Regions from separate parts of the Homo sapiens genome. Here region 2 is linked to region 1. Evidence: fine-mapped expression QTL. A gene starts in region 1. The other region holds a variant in brackets. All regions are shown on one strand. Distances are from middle to middle. Region 1 holds the start of USP44 (ubiquitin specific peptidase 44). Region 2 overlaps TMCC3 (transmembrane and coiled-coil domain family 3).

Evidence for each region.
Region 2: its variant is fine-mapped to the expression of USP44 in fibroblasts (GTEx, PIP 0.96).

What each region holds. Positions count from the first base shown.
Region 1 is chr12:95,548,172-95,556,508 of GRCh38, reverse strand. USP44 (ubiquitin specific peptidase 44) reads left to right here and starts at 5,033. Exons shown (of 6, transcript NM_032147.5): 1 at 5,033-5,237.
Region 2 is chr12:94,599,852-94,608,188 of GRCh38, reverse strand. The region is part of intron 1 of TMCC3 (transmembrane and coiled-coil domain family 3); the gene reads left to right. Among named protein-coding and RNA genes, the nearest start is that of MIR7844, 33 kb to the right of the region's middle. The variant C/T (reference allele first, on the strand shown) is at 4,609.

The DNA of each region.
Region 1 (8,337 bases):
TACCCTAGGACCTTAAGTAGTTTAGTAATATGGGCATTTTTGACCCCAAAAACTGGGCCAGGGACATTTGGTCTCTCCTAGCATCCCATCACACCAACACAACAAAGGCCTACTGCGTAGGTTCTCTTGTAGGAATAAGTCTAGTCTTAATTACCTGTAGACTGATATTTAACAAAACAATAAGGGGAAAATTATTCACTATGAGGCTAGTCAGAATTATAATTGTCTTACACAGTTTAATTTTGTGACTAATGATAAGACCACATTTTTGTCTTAAAAAAATTTTTTTTTTTTTTGAGACAGAGTTTTGCTCTTGTCGCCCAGGCTGGAGTACAGTAGCATGATCTCGGCTCACTGCAACCTCTGCCTCCCAGGTTCAAGTGATTTTCCTGTCTCAGCCTTCCGAGTAGCTGGGATTACAAGCACCCACCACCACACCCAGCTAATTTTTGTATTTTTAGTAGAGACGGTGTTTCGCCAGGTTGGCCAGGCTTGTCTGGAACTCCTGACCTCAGGTGATCCACCTTCCTCAGCCTCCCAAAGTGCTGGGATTACAGGCGTGAGCCACTGCACCCGGCTCTTTTATCTTAAATTTAATACAATGTTATGGGCATAAGCAAATAAATGTTTAAGTCATCCTTTATTACTACCATTGATTTTTAAGAAGAGATTATTTCATAGGCATTTAATGGTAAATTTATATAAATTTCCTTCTGTGATCATTCCTGTGGCATTTTGGAGTTTTCATCCAAACAGACAAAATAAAACTTTATACTTGTGAAAAACATCCCATTACATGTCATATTTCAAGCTTTTTTTCCCCCCCCTACAATGCTTGGCTCATCCTTCATTATTTTTCTAAAGATTAGGAGCCGCATATTTAGGACATTTAAAAAAATCCAAGGACCAGACACAGTGGCTCACACCTATAATTCCAGCACTTTGGGAGGCCGAGGCGGGTGAATCACCTGAGGTCAGGAGTTTGCGACCAGTCTGGCCAACATGGTGAAACCCCGTCTCTACTAAAAATAAAAAAATTAGCCGGGTGTGGTGGCAGGTGCCTGTAATCTCAGCTACTCAGGAGGCTGAGGCAGGAGAATCACGTGAACCCAGGAGGCGAAGGTTGCAGTGAGCCGAGATTGTGTCATTGCACTCCAGCCTGGGTGACAAGAGTGAGACTCCATCTCAAAAAACATCCAAGAAATTAATATCAAGTATTCATTATGCTTAATTCTTTAAACACTAATTTCAAAACCAAAAATAAAATGAAATAGATAGGGACTATCTAACTTACACACAACCTCCCTTCCCCCAAAGAGTTTCCCTCAGAAATGTGGTTTTCAAGGCTGGGTGCAGTGGCTCACACCTGTAATCCCAGCACTTTGGGAAGTCCAGGTGGGTGGATCATTTGAGCTCAAGAGTCCAAGACCAGCCTGGACAACATAGTGAAACCCCATCTCTACAAAAAATACAAAAATTAGCTGGGTGTAGTGGCATGTGCCTGTAGTCCCAGCTACTTGGGAGGCACAGGTGTGAGGATTGCTTGAGCCTGGTAGGTCAAGGCTGCAGTGAGCTGAGATCACGCCACTGCACTCCTGGGTGGCAGGAAAAAAAATGTGGTTTTTCTAGGAGTTAATCACTGGTTAGCTAAGGAAAAGAGGCTTACAAACACTATTTACAGATGACTAAATCAATGATTGCTACCACGAGGTACCTTGGCCTAAAAAGAAGCAACCTTAAGATGGCAGAGAAAAGCAGGTTGATCATCCTAGCTCTTACACATGAAGAATTGTTAGCTCTTTTTATTGTATGCATACATCCTGAATAGACAGTTTGTGGTTTCTTTTAAATGATGCAATATCACGTTGTATTAAGGGGGCCTTCTATTTACTTTTCTTATCTTTTACAACCCAGGAGCGACACTGCAGGATTTCAATTTCCAAATGGTTTGGCAAGATGTAAATAATTATACAAATAGCTACAGTTATCCATCTACACTTTCCTCATTCTATTATTTTTTTTTAAAAAAAAGAAATGGGTTTAAAAACATGTATAGAGTATAAAAACAAAACTTGGGTACCCCAATAATCTCTTCCTCATGAAAAGTTACTAGTATCTTTTTGGCATGGTTTACTAAAACTTTAAGAGTTGAAATTTCCACCTGTAGTGCCTTTTCTTTTCTCCCCCTCTCTCCCTCTGCCTTTCCAGATCCTTTCCCTCCCTACTATGAGAGAGGAAGACTAAAATAGTATTGCCATGTTTCTCAGAGTAATAGAATTAATTTTAACCTTTATAGCACTTGTCCTTGAATTGACTATTACTTTAGTACAGAAGTAAAACTTGATTTAAGGGAATACTGCTTATCTATCCTGAGTGAGGTTCTGTATTAATTGCTATAGGGGTTGTAAATATGAACAAAAGTCTGTTTCTGACTTCAAAGAACTTTACAGGGTAATAGTAAACCTAAGAGAGAAATAATGATAAACACACTGACTTTTCTCCTTACAGTTTAGGCAGGTTCCATGGACAAAACCTCATTTGGTCCTTAAAACATTATTGTGAAGAAGATAGGACAGATACTATTTTCCAAACTCTACAAATGAGATAGAAATTTTAAAAATCCTGAAAGGATTGCAAATAACTAGATGGACAAATTGTTATTATAGCTAAATGAGTTCTAATTATATATGTGCATATGAGTATATATATGTGTGTCTGCGTGTATTGTGTGTGTGTGTGTGTGTGTGTATTCTGCTGTCATCACCTCCCATAGCTTATCCTTGGAAAGGAAGTACCTTGGCTTAGCAAAATATCTATCCCACTGATCTGTCACAATGTTTAAAATGTCATTTTAGAAATTCCAAACTCTGGGTGTCTACAGGAGGTAGAACAGTCTGAGAGAGAAATGGAAAAAAAAATACTAAACACTAATAATACAAAGTAGATAACTTTACTTCATAACTGAGCTCCTTAGATAATGACAGGTTGGGGCCAGGCATGGTGGCTCATGCTCGTAACCCCAGCACTTTGGGAGGCCGGGGCACAAGGATTGCTTGAGGCCAGGAGTTTGAGACCAGCCTGGGTAGCATAGGGAGAACCCCCCTCCACCCCCACATCTCTACAAAAAATCAATTAGCAGAAGTTGTGTCGCATGCCTGTGGTCCCAGTTACACAGGAAGCTGAGGTGGGAAGATTGCTTGAGCCTGAGAGGTCAAGGCTGCAGTGAGCCATGATCACGCTACTGCACTCCAGCCTGGTGACAAAACCCTGTCTCCATTTTAAAAATAAATAAAAAGAGAGAATGAAAGGTTGGTGTACCTGTCCTGAACAAAATGGGAAGAGTTTTGATGGGAAGGAAGAGAGACAGACTGCAGTAAAGCCCTGGACACAGCATCCTGAGGATCCCTGTAAAAGTGAGTATAGAGTGGGCCAGGCGTGGTGGCTCACGCCTGTAATCCCAGCACCTGGGGAGGCCGAGGCGGGCAGATCACGAGGTCAGGAGTTGGAGACCAGCCTGACCAACATGGTGAAACCCCGTCTCTACTAAAAATACAAAAATTAACCAGGCGTGGTGGTGCATACCTGTAATCCCAGGTACTCAGGAGGCTGAGGCAGGGGAACTGCTTGAACCCGGGAGGCGGAGGTTGCAGTGAGCCGAGATCACGCCACGGCACTCCAACCTGGGTGACAGAGCGAGACTCTGTCTCAAAAAAAAAAAAAAAAAGAAAAGAAAAGAAAAGAAAAACTGAGTATAGGGTGGAGGTGGAGTGGATGTTTATGTTTAAAAAGGGGGAGAAATGGACTCACTTCACAATTTTGCTTCCATTTATACCTAAACCCTGGGGCTCAGGGTTTCAGTTTCCAGTAGGCCTATGTTGGAAATTCACCTGCAAGGTACAAGTTTCCCTGACAGACCACCAAATAAACAATGGTCTTTTAAAAACAAATCAACTTTGGTACCATCTACTCAGCTGGCATTTACCTTCCTTACCTGCTACCAACCTCATTCTTAGAATTAAAGAAAAAAGGCGAATTCTAAAGCCCCTTCTACTCACTTTCCTCCACTAAGGCCATAGCTTACATCTGCTGCTCTTTTTTCCATACTCCTTTTTTCTCAACTCCTTTCTTTCATATTTGCCAGAAATTTAAGGTCGTTTGGGTTCCTCTCATTTAAAAAGTTCAACTGAAGTGTGTTGCTACACCTTAATCAAAAGTTTATGGCTGAGTTATTTAGCGTTTCTTTACCCACTTCCTCTGCTCAATCCTTCATCTCCTCATAACCATTGAAATGAATGCTATGAATATCTCAATGCTTAGCATGGTGCCAGGCATTTAGGTGTTGAAAAAAATGTTAAGCGAATATTAGTTATTAGGTAAGAGCATTGTCTGTAAAACTCTGAAAAGTCTTAAAAGTGATTCCTAAAATTTCACAAGCTCATAAATTCTTTAGTCTGCAATTATGATTCCTGAAATATTCTTCGATTCATGAAAGACTGGACTAGGAAATTCTAAAAATCGACATAAAGCATAAAAAGCCACTCTGAGGTTTATGAAATTTACAATGTTTTGTCTTCTTTTAATTCATTCGTACTTTTCTCTCAGGATACAAAGGGCAAAACTGTTTGTGTAGTAACTCAGAATTGAGTAGTTACACATCCATTAGGTTTCAGAATCGTTAAAATTTTATCTGGTTTAGGAAACTGCTTACCTTGGAAGGGCAAATTGCCATTTCTCTCCATCTGGGGATCAGGGAAGCAAGGGAAGCCCCCCTAAACATCACTTCCACGCTCCTATATTATGCTAAGGAACTTCTGGTTGATTCATTAGGCATTTCAGCAGTGTTTTTGGCCGGTACTAGGAACTGTGGAGAGGTATAGAAAGGGAGCAAGTGCACAGTCCCGGCCCCCAAAGAGGTTACGATGCAAATAGAAGCAGGCTCAGAACTCGGAACAAAAGCAGTGACTGCATAATAATGCACTGCTGGGGGTGGGGGATGGGGATCTGCACGCCCGGTTTGTGACTTCAGGAAAGCAGTTTCCAGGAGGTGAGAGTTTAAGCCAAACCTGAAAGAGGTTGATTTGTAATGATTTGCAGGGGGGCACTGGAGGCAGCCGCCAGGACTTTTCACTTAGGAGATCAGCATTTGCCCTGATGGAAACTGGGCGATCCTGCAGGGACTGACCTCTGAGTTATCCAAAGGCCGACCTGGGGAAAGACTGATTTTGAGGTTTTAATAGGTAAGTTTGGGGACATCATTGATGAAGGTGGGCAGGGAAGGAGGCTTTTTTCTTTTCTTTTTTTTAATGTTACAGTAAAAAGCTTAGATTCGATGAGACGGGTTAAAAAACAAATAGGAAAATTTAAGGAGAAGAATGACTATGATTGCTATGTAAAAATAAAATTGCAATAGAGAGGTTCTGGAGCTCAGGAAATGAGCTAGAGCATGCTATAATTTAGGCCTAGATAGTGAAGATCATGAATAAAATGGTAGCTGAGGAAATTTCAAAGTTGAATAAGTAGTAATAAGTATGAAGAAAAAGCTAAACTACAAACATCTGCTCTTTAATTACTAACACTAGTAATGAGAATTTGTCTCCAGCCTCTTCCCTTCCCACTCCGCACCTCTTCCTAGCTTACATCATTGTATTAAGGCATTTTATTGAAGACACTATTCAGCACTCTCCACCTATGCCTTACACAGCTTGCCTTTGCTTTTCTTCCCATTTCACTTTTTCTCTTCATTTATTCACATCATTTTAGTCCTTAAAAGACCCCGCCCAATTACTAGATCAGAGGGAGGCAACTAAGACTCTTCCTATCTCCCAAACGACCTTCCAGAATGGTTTTATGGCATTATAATAGGAAAGCAAGAGTTTTGATTTTTCTATTATTAATATTTTGCTTTCAAGGAATTACAGGAAAAACCATATTGCATGCCAGAAATACTTAAATTTTAAATATTTCATCTTAAGAGATGCCCTCATGTAATGCTTTTAATGCATTTGAGAAATTCAGGTGGTGGGCAAAAGTACAACATAGAGGTTAGATGTTTTGAGTGGGAGAAGTGCACTGGGGTCATTATTGAATCAGAATTATTATGCACTTAAATATATAGAAAAAAGAACAAAATGAGTATTAAACTATGCAAATTCATCCCTTTAATCTTTATTTGCATGACTACATTTTATGCAGTTGTAACCTTAATGTACATATTTGGTATTTTTTTCAAACATGAATTGATTAGACATTGTTGCTATTTTGTATCTATTTTGTTAACATAAGAACTTCCTGTGTTATATCAGATTTTTTTTTTTTTTTTTTTTTTCTGAGACGGAGTTTCGCTCTTGTTGCTGCCCAGGCTTGAGTGCAATTGTGGATCTAGGCTCACCACAACCTCCGCCTCCTGGGTTCAAGCGATTGTCCTGTCTCAGCCTACCGAGTAGCTGGGATTACAGGTGCCCGCCACCAGGCCCGGATAATTTTTGTATTTTTAGTAGAGACAGGGTTTCACTATGTTGGCCAGGCTGCTCTCGAACTCCTGACCTCAGGTGATCCACCCGCCTTGGCCTCCCAAAGTGCTGTGATTACAGGCGTGAGCCACTGCGCCCGGCCTCTATGTCAGACCTTAATTAGCCATTTCCTGTTAGTTAGAATCCTGTGCCGCTCCTTCTTGCCTTTTACGGTGTTTGGATAATATGCTGTGAATACCTTTGTGCACTCATTTCTTTATTCAGGTCATACCACTGAAACATACTCCCCAGAATAAAACTGATGATGAAAAGATAGGAACAATTTTATACCTTGTCTTACATATTGCAAGATTTTGCACTGCATTGATGTATTGTTAACTTTGCATGTTTGTCTTCTTTTTAAGCTCTCCTTGGAGAGTTTTTAAATTTTCAGTACACTCCACAGGGTGGCCAAAGTAGAACTGCTTTGTCATTGAGTATAGGTTCAGTTAAAAACAACAATCTGGCTCAGAGTTGAACACAAAGAATCCAATAAATATTAATGGGTTAATTTTCAGGTACCTTAGCCTTGACTTTCCTGTTTTCCAGATTTCCCCTCCTTTTCCTTTTCGGTATGTACTTCATTATTTAAATGGGCAATTTCGGGTTAGGCAGTTCTAGATAGCGGTTCCCTTCCTGTGCCCGTTCTGGAACCTCTCTCGCCCTTCTGCGGTGCGAAAAAACCCAATTCACAGCCGTCATCGCCACTGAAGTTACACCCAGGGGTCGCTTCAAGAAGGAAACGTTTTCTTTAAGAATTTCTATGCCAGTGAATTGGGGAAGGTTTTAAAGATAACGGAGTTTGCCACGCGTTTCTGCCAAACAATTCGACGTTGTGTAAATCGCAGAAATTCCAGGAAGGACTAACGACGTCCGTGGATGATTCTGCGGCTCACAGGCACACAGGACACGCTGGGTTTACCCTCCCGTGTCCCGACGGCACTACAGGTGCGAAGCCCGCCCGGGGAGGCAGTGCTTGTTGTTCGCGCAGACCCACTTGCGGCGCCGGGGACCGTCCGTGGCCCCGACCCCCCCACGAGGCGCGGAAGGCGGCCACCGGCAGGTTCTCGGTGCCCGCGAAGAGCCGGCGCAGGGGTGGGGCTGTGGGAGGGGGCGGGGCCTGCTGCGCGTCACGGCTGTCGTAGCCGCCGCACCGGGTCGTCGCGGCCGCCGAACCGGGGGGCGGGGGGCCGGGGTGAGCGCTAAGATGGCCGCCCCGGCTCGGGCTGGTGAGTGTGCGCGAGGGCGCGCGGCCGCGGCGATTGGCGGAGTGAGGACCCCTGCGGGAGCGGACGTGCGACGGCAGCCCCCGGGGCCGGGAGGCACCTGGGGGCCTATTCTCGCCGCGCAGGGCGCTGGGGGGTCCTGAGAGAGGGAGAGCCTGGGGCTGCGGGCGCGCGGAAGGGAATGAGCCGAGGGGCGCGCGGCGGCGACGCGTCCGGCGAATTTTGAATTGCCCCCCTGGGAAGTTTCGGTGGGTTCTGCGGCGCTCCGACCCTGTCCCGGCGGCAGCCTCAGAGTGCCCGGAGATGCTGCGGCAAGGCGCAGCGGGCTGGAGGGGGCGAGCTGGGGGAGAACGGGCGCGGGCGAGGGCTTCGGGGACTGGAAGGGGCTTCGCGCTGATCCCGGCACGAGCGTCGTGGAGAGGTGGGCGCGGGGCTGGCACGGGCTGGGCGCTGTGTGGAGCACGCAACGCCCGGGTCCAGCCGCATCCCTCCACCCTCCCGGATTACCGCGAGGTGATGCTCGAAGCCCCGGGGCACTTCGGGAGGGCGGTTGTGGCACTCGGTTGAGGAGGAATGCGCTTCCCGGCGTCTTGCCCGCCTTC
Region 2 (8,337 bases), 950 kb after region 1:
AGTTTGATTCCTTTGAAGGATGTGTCCCTTAATAAACATACCCTTGCCTCTGATTAGATATTATTGAACTCTTTGAGTCAATCCTATAATATGAAGTATATATTCACTGATTGTTCACTACATGTTTATCCAGGAAGAAAAGCAATCAAGCAAAGTGTTTCTCTGACACAGAGATTGTGGTACTTATGGTATATTTACAATGGCCTTATTAAAACATCAGTCATAACATTGAAAGCAATGAATGACATCAGAGTCATTAAAGTATAGAAATCAAATAAATTTTAGTTCATCAAGTTCAGGGTGATATCCTGAGTTGAATGAGAGACTTCATAATGTTCTCAGTTCATGAACAGATGGTCCCCTAACATTTCGAAATGCTGATTAAGGTAGGTGGACTGAGTCAGATTAATCAAGGGTACCACATTGTAAATACTGTTATGTAGTTAGCAATCCTTGGCATCTAATTAAGTTCACCTTCTTTCAGGCTGGGCACGGTGGCTCATGCCTGTAATCCCAGCACTTTGGGAGGCTGAGGTGGGAAGATCACTTGAGGTCAGCAGTTCAAGACCAGCCTGGCCAACATGGTGAAACCCCATCTGTTGCGGGAAGTCAGGGACCCCGAATGGAGAGACCGCCTGGAACCATGGGCAGAACATAAATTGTGAAGATTTCATGGACATTTATAAGTTCCCAAAATTAATACTTTTATAATTTCTTATGCCTGTCTTTACTGCAATCTCTGAACATAAATTGTGAGGGTTTCATGGACATTTATCACTTCTGTAATAATACTCTTGTAATTTCTTATGCCTGTCTTTAATCTCTTAATCCCGTTATCTTCATAAGCTGAGAATGTATGTCACCTCAGGACCACTATTGTACAATAGATTGTAAAACGTGTGTTTGAACAATATGAAATCAGTGCACCTTGACAAAGAACAGAATAACAGTGATTTTCAGGGAATAAGGGAAGATAACCATAAGTTCTGACTGCCTGCGGGGTCAGGCAGAATAGAGCCATAGTTTTCTTCTTGCAGAGAGCCTATAAATGGATGTGCAAGTAAGAGGGTATCGCTGAATTATTTTCCCAGCAAGGAATACCGTGCGGAAGGAATGCATTCCTGGGGGGAGGTCTGTAAACGGCCACTCTGGGAGTGTCTGTCTTATGCAATTTAGATAAGGACTGAAATACACCTTGGTCTCCTGCAGTACCCTCAGGCTTACTAGGATTGGGAAATTCCAGCCTGGTAAATTTTGGTCAGACCAATTCTCTGCTCTCACCTGTTTCCTGTTAAGATGTTTATCAAGACAGTACGTGCACAGCAGGACATAGACCCTCATCAGTAATTCTAATTTTGCCTTTGTCTTGTGATCTTTATTGCCCTTTGAAGCATGTGATCTTTGTGACCTACGCCCTGTTCGTACACCCCCTCCCCTTTTAAAATCCCTAATAAAAACTTGCTGGTTTTGCAGCTCGGGGTCATCACGGTCCTACCAATATGTGATGTCACCCCCAGAGGCCCAGCTGTAAAATTCCTCTCTTTGTACTCTTTCTCTTTATTTCTCAGACCGGCTGACACTTAGGGAAAATAGAACCTACTTTGAAATATTGGGGCTGGTTCCCCCGATACCCATCTCTACTAAAAATACAAAAATTAGCCAGGCATGGTGGTGTACACCTGTAGTCCCACATACTCAGGAGGCTGAGACAGGAGAATCACTTGAACCTGGGAGGCAGAGGTTACAGTGAGCTGAGATCACCCCACTGCACTCCAGCCTGGGTGACAGAGCGAGATTGTCTCAAAAAAAAAAAAAAAAGAATAAGAAAAAAGTTCACCTCCTTTCCCAAGGCAAAAAGAAGCCCCATGGTTCTTAGGGAACTTGGCATGAGTAAAGCCTCTTGGGCATTTTACCCTTTGAGCATAAAATTCATGTTTCCAAATGATACTTCTGCACACAGGCAGTAGTTCCATAATAGGCTAAGAGCAGGTGTCCCTGAGTGAGAGTTCTCACAGTCTTGTTGCATTGTTAAAGGCTCTAGGTCAGGTACAGACCCATGGTTTGGTTGATTGCAATTCCCAGTAAAGAGAAAAAAAGCGTCTAGCATTGACGCTTTCAAGACTGCCTTCTATCCACCCCCCTACACACATACTTGTTTTTTTGTTTGTTTGTTTGTTTTCTGTTACTAATCTCATTTGGATTTTTTTTTTCCACATATAATTTTAGTCATAGTTAGTACCTGGTTTGACGGAGTAGATTGGTGTAACCGTGGTACTTTCCTGCATTCAGGAGAATCTGGGATGTCTTCCGTAAGTATGGCTTAGAGTGAGGGGAATGTGATTTGCCGTGTACATTGAGGGATTTCTCTTTTCAGTCCATAAATAAAAGACAGAAGGCATTGCACTCTTCAGGAAAGTCATCTTTAAGTCCTGCCATTTTGTTCATCGTAGGTGAAAACTTTGCTCTTCTTTATCTAGCCCCCGATGGAAAGTACCAAGGCTGTGATAATAATTGGAGTTTGAATAGTATTGAGCCTGTAGAAGAGAGATGAGTGGAGATGGAATAAATTATGAATTGTGTATTTATGAGGCAAAATGCCTGATTTTCCATATGTGATGGACAGTGTTCTTTTAGGTAAGAACTCAGCTATCCTTAGCTTCAAATGATGCTTAAAAAAAGGAAAAGTCCAAATTACATGATCCCAGCATCCCAGATAGACGCTTACTTAATGTTGGTATGCAACAAGTGTATACGCATGTCATGACCAATTACACAGATTCATGAATGAACCATTCTTATGTGACCTGAACTAAATCCAAAATCCCTCTGTGTAGTATAGTCACAGTGCTGTATTTTTAAAAAATTAATAAGAACCTAAACAGTATCTGTATTTAAGATAAGCCTCCTTTTCTTTTTGATATTCCAAATTCTCTATGTCTCCGTATTTTATTTTCATGATTATAAAAACACCACCTGCTTTAAAATTCCTGGCTTCCCCTTGTCTGCATGGTCAGGTGTCTAGCCTAGCATGGTTTGCAGAGCCTGTTGCAGGTTGTCGGTGTTCTTCTGAGCCTTGTGCCGCCTCCCTTTAGGAATGCTTGCCATGCACCTCTTTTTCACCCCAGCCCTCAATCATGCCTTGATTTAGAATGACCCATTTAGCCATTCTCAATTTTAGACACTCCAACTTTTAGTTTCCTAAATACATATTCTAGTTTTTCCTTCTGCAGATACAATGTGCTCCTTGCTAGGCTCTCAGCAGATTTTTGAGCTGCCTCTAAGTCAATTATCACCTTCTCAGAAGCTTCTCATTGAAGCCCCCTGCTTATTTCCTCCCCTTGGTTCCTATAGTACTTATTACTTCTTTTTTTTTTTTTTTTTTTTTGAGATGAAGTCTCACTCTGTCACTTAGGCTGAAGTGCAATGGCACAATCATGGCCCACTGCAGACTTGACCTCTTAGGCTCAAGAAATCCTCCCACCTCAGCCTCTCAAGTAGCTGGGACCACAGACACTACCACACGCAGCATTTTTTTTTTTTTTTTTTGGTAGAGATGGGGTCTCACTATTGTGCCCTAGCTGGTCTCAAACTGCTGGGTTCAAGTAATCCTCCTGCCTCGGTCCCCAGAGTGCTGGGATTACAGGAGTGAGCCACTGTGCCTGGCCTTGTTACATTTTTTAATTCTGTACGCCTCCCTGCCCCAAGAGTGACCTCTTAGGGCAGAGCTTATCATATTTCTCTGACTCCAGTTCTTTCAGCACAGGACTTAGTTCACAAAAGATGCCCAGAAAAACATTTTCAAGTAGCAATTCTGTATTTTAGGGGGCTTGGTTTGCAACCTAAATTAATCAGTTCCATTAGCTATCATAAAAACAATTTGGTCTAAGTAAGCAAGCCCTAATTGTACTTTGTGTGCTTTTAGTTAAATTCAGCCTCATTGAGAAACATTGGCTTTCTAAATGACTATTATGTAATAAAACAAGGCATTAGCAATCTGGATCAACATGGTATTAGGATTTTGCTGCATTTTGCAGAATTCTAAATTGCATATTTTTATGTCTAAATCTGATGTATTCAGTTAAACCACAGATATTAATGCCTTGCTAGTAGTACACGTGTGGATTTCTGCTCTTTTTCATTGGCTCTTTAGTATTCTAAAAACAAATATTTATGAGACAGTGTCATGAAAGTTTGGGAAACTTTAAAAATGTTAAAGAGCTGACAAAATGCATTACAGGTTGACATGCTAATGAAATTTAAGTGGTTTTTTTTCTTGCTAGAATTGAGCAATACTGTATGTTAACATTTATTCATTGTGCATTTGTAATGTTACAGGTACTATAAAGATAATAGTTTTGACAGCTCCTGCATTTTTGTTATCTAAGTTTTTTTGCATCTTATTACTTTTTTGAGGTTTCACTTACAGTAAAGTGTATACATCTTAAATGTACAGTTGGATAATTTTTACCTATGTGTATGTCCTGAGTGACTGCCACCTGGATCAATGTTGTTAGCACCCCAGTGCTCCCTGGTGCCACCTACTGGTGAATCATTCTCCGTACCCCTACTTCCCCGCAAAGGGTAACCACTCTTCTCACCTCCGCAGCA[C/T]GCTAATCATACACCATCACATTTTTGTGTGTGGCTTCTTTCATTAAGTATTACACACGTGAGATTTGTCTGGGTTGTGTGTTGAACAATTTTTCATTCCTTTTGTTGCATATGGTTTTTAACGACTTGTTGCTTATTAAATTTTATTTTGGTAAATAAGATTCATTATAAAGGGATGGCTCATGCCCATAATACCAGCATTTTGGGAGACCAAGGCAGGCAGATCACATGAGGCCAGGAGTTCAAGACCACCCTGGCCAAGATGGCAAAACCCCGTCTGTACTAAAATACAAGATGGCAAAACCCCATCTCTACTAAAAATAAAAAAATTAGCCAGGCGTGGTGGTGCACGTCTGTAATCCCAGGTACTCGGGAAGCTGAGGCATGAGAATTGTTTGAGCCTGGGAGGCAGAGGTTGCGGTGAACCGAGATTGCGCCACTGCACTCCAGCCTGGGTGACAGAGCAAGACTCTGTCTCAAAAAAATAAAAAATAAGATTCATTATAAAGAGTAATACTCAGTTTGTGTCAGTTGGTCTGTGCTAATAATTTTATGAACAAGGCTATTGGCATTTTGCGTGCAGGATGCCAGCCTTACAGACCTAATAGTAACAGAACTGCTGCATATGAGAGCTGCAAGGCCCTTAGAGTTTGCAGAGTTCAGCCACCTTGCTTCTTTACGAGGACCTAAGGTTAATTGGATCCCAGGTCCCCCGAGTGATCTAGTTCAGTTGTCTTCTTGAGGTCACTGTTGCTGTGTCACAATTCAAACTTGATTATGTGGATGTCCATAGTCAACAGGAAAACAATCTTGGAAATTTAGAAATCCACCTGGGCATGATGGTGCACTCCTGTAGCCTCGGTTACTTGGGATGCTGAGGAAGATCACTGGAGCCCCGGAGTTGGAAGCCAGCCTGGGCAACAGAGCAAGACCTTGTCTCTAAAAGAAATTAAAAGAAAGAAGAAAATCTAGAAATCTCTAATTAGCAAGACTTGGAGTTTCAGTTATCTACAAGTTTCATTCACTCATCTAGAATACTTCCCTTAGTGTCAATTAAATGAGATGTTACTGACCGTTCATGGAACTTCGTCTTTTATTAAAACCTATTCTTAAAGGAAAAGGAAGGGGAAAATGTAACCAGTGCACATGTTTGCTATGGTACTTTCAGCTTTAGCGCACTGTCTTAAACTTTTGATGTTCCTAGATTTAGTTATTTTAAAGCCCTGTGAAAACCACAAGGATTGTTCTCAGTATGCGAGGTCTTAGGGTAAGTTCTGAGTCTGTGATCTCTGCAACTAAAAAACCAATCCCTAATCTTATACCTTTCTGCTAAGGTCGTAATGATTCACAGAAGTTTTGTAGAAAGGATTTTGAAGGAGAGATTAGTAGACTCAGCAATGGAACATTAAATCCTTTATAGGCCAGGAAGTAACCACAGAACGTTCTTCAGAATGTTAGAGCCTTCCTTAAGTATGATTAACAAACACAGGGACAAGTGGCTTGTCTTTTTTCTAATTATAACACACTGTTTTTCAAACAGGATTATGGTCATGAAATAAATTTGATGAGTAACAACTATCACTTTATATTCTTATATGGAAAAGCAGAAGGAACATCACAGCAAATACTCATCTACCTTACCCAGATTCAACAATTTAAAATGTTCTTATTTTCTTTGTTTGTGTTTGTAACCTGTTAAAAGTAAGTGATATACAGACACCAGGTCCCTTTCTTTTTTCTTCTCTTTTTTTTTTTTTTTTTTTTTTTTTTTTGAGACCAGGTCTCACTCTGTCACCCAGGCTGGAGTGCAGTGGCATAATCTTGGTTCACTGCAACCTCTGCCTCCCGGGTTCAAGCAATTCTCCTGTCTCAACCTCCCCAATTAGCTGGCATTACAGGTGTGCACCACCATGCTCAGCCAATTTTTTAGTAGAGATAGGGTTGGCCAGGCTGGTCTCAAACTCCTGACCTCATGTGATCCACCCACCTCGCCCCCCCACAATGTTGGGATTACAGGAATGAGTCACTGCGCCCAGCCTTCTTTTTTGTTTTTTGAGACACAGCCTCACTCTGTTGCCCAGGCTGGAGTGTAGTGAGTGTAATGGCATGATCTCGGGTCACTGCAATCTCCGCCTCCCAGGTTCAAGTGATTCTCATGCCTCAGCAATCCCCTGAGTAGCTGGGATTACAGGCATCTACCATCATGCCCAGCTAATTTTTGTATTTTTGGTAGAGATGGGCTTTCACCATGTTGGCCAGCCTGGTCTCGAAAGCCTGGCCTCAAGTGATCTGCCCGCCTCAGCCTCCCAAAGTGTTGGGATTACAGTCATGAGCCACCGCGCCCGGCCAGGGCACTTTGTTTCTAATATGTATCTGCAAACAAGGACTTTTTCTACATAATAAAATTAACAAAGGTAATTATAATTTCTAATATCCAGTTGTCCAGAAAATTAGGTAGCTGTAAATACAGTTACATTGTGTGTAGTAAAGATAAGTAGTATTTTACAAAACTTTTGTTTTAATTAGGTGTGTGCATGTATATGTGCACATACATAAGTATGTATATATTGGTAAACATGTATTTCTTTCTTGGATGTCTCATTCAGAATTTGTAATATACTGGGTTATGACATAGAGAAATTGGGTTCGTATATAGGTATTTGCTGCTCAGTGATACTGCGCGTTCTGTGCTGAGTGTTGTATGGTACCTGAGAAAGTGAATGCTTTCAGTAACTAGTAAAAAACCCAGCAAAGATGATAAAACAAAGAGGAACCCACCTAACAGTATATATAAGAGCCAAAATGGATCAGGAAGGAGAAGAAGTCCTTTGGAAAGGCCTCATGGAAGAGATCTTGAAGGAATGGTAGGATTTGGATATGACAGAGGCCTTGAGATGCTGTGTCCGGAAGGGAATGGTGTAAGTGTTGAGGTGAAACAGAAAGTCCAGAAATATGTTCATGTACCACAGTGCTGAGATCCACTTGGTGGATGGTGAAGGAAGGAGGAAGACATTGGAAGTTGAATAGGAAAAATTACTCAGGGCTTAAGTACCAGCAAGGGGAGGAATCCAATCTCTTTATTAAAGGAAGAATCGTTGAACATCTTAAGCAGTGTTTTAGTGTGATGGAAGTGGGAGTTTAGAAGATCAGTGTAATGACTTCCTATAGACTAGATGGAAGGAATAGAACACTGAAAACAAGGAAACCCAGTTAAACTGTTGCCCTTGCTATAGGTGAGATAGGAAATGAGGATGTGGATTAAGATAGATGGCCCTGAGGATAGCAAGGAAGGGTCAATCTGGAGAGAAACCACCAAGCCAAAAAAAAAAAAAAAAAAAAACCAGAATTTGGTGACAGTTTTAAAGAAGAGATGAAGGAGAGAGAACATCAATAAAATAATTATGCTGTTTACCCCTAAGGTCATGGAATTAAGTATAACCCAGTCCCCAAACCCCCAACATAATATCTGTAAAAACAAGCTTCCAAGCATAATTCATATTCATTCATTTTCTCTCTCTCCCTCTCTCTCTCTTCCCCCACCACCACTCCTTTTTTTAGAGATGGGGTCTTGCTGTGTTACCCAGGCTGGCCTCCAACTCTTGGGCTCAAACGATCCTCCTGGCTCAGCTTCCTGCGTAGCTGGGGCTACAGGCACATGCCACTGTGCCTGGTCATGCCATAATACTCTCAAAAAGTAGGCTAAGGAGGTTTTATAGAGGAAGTAGCAAG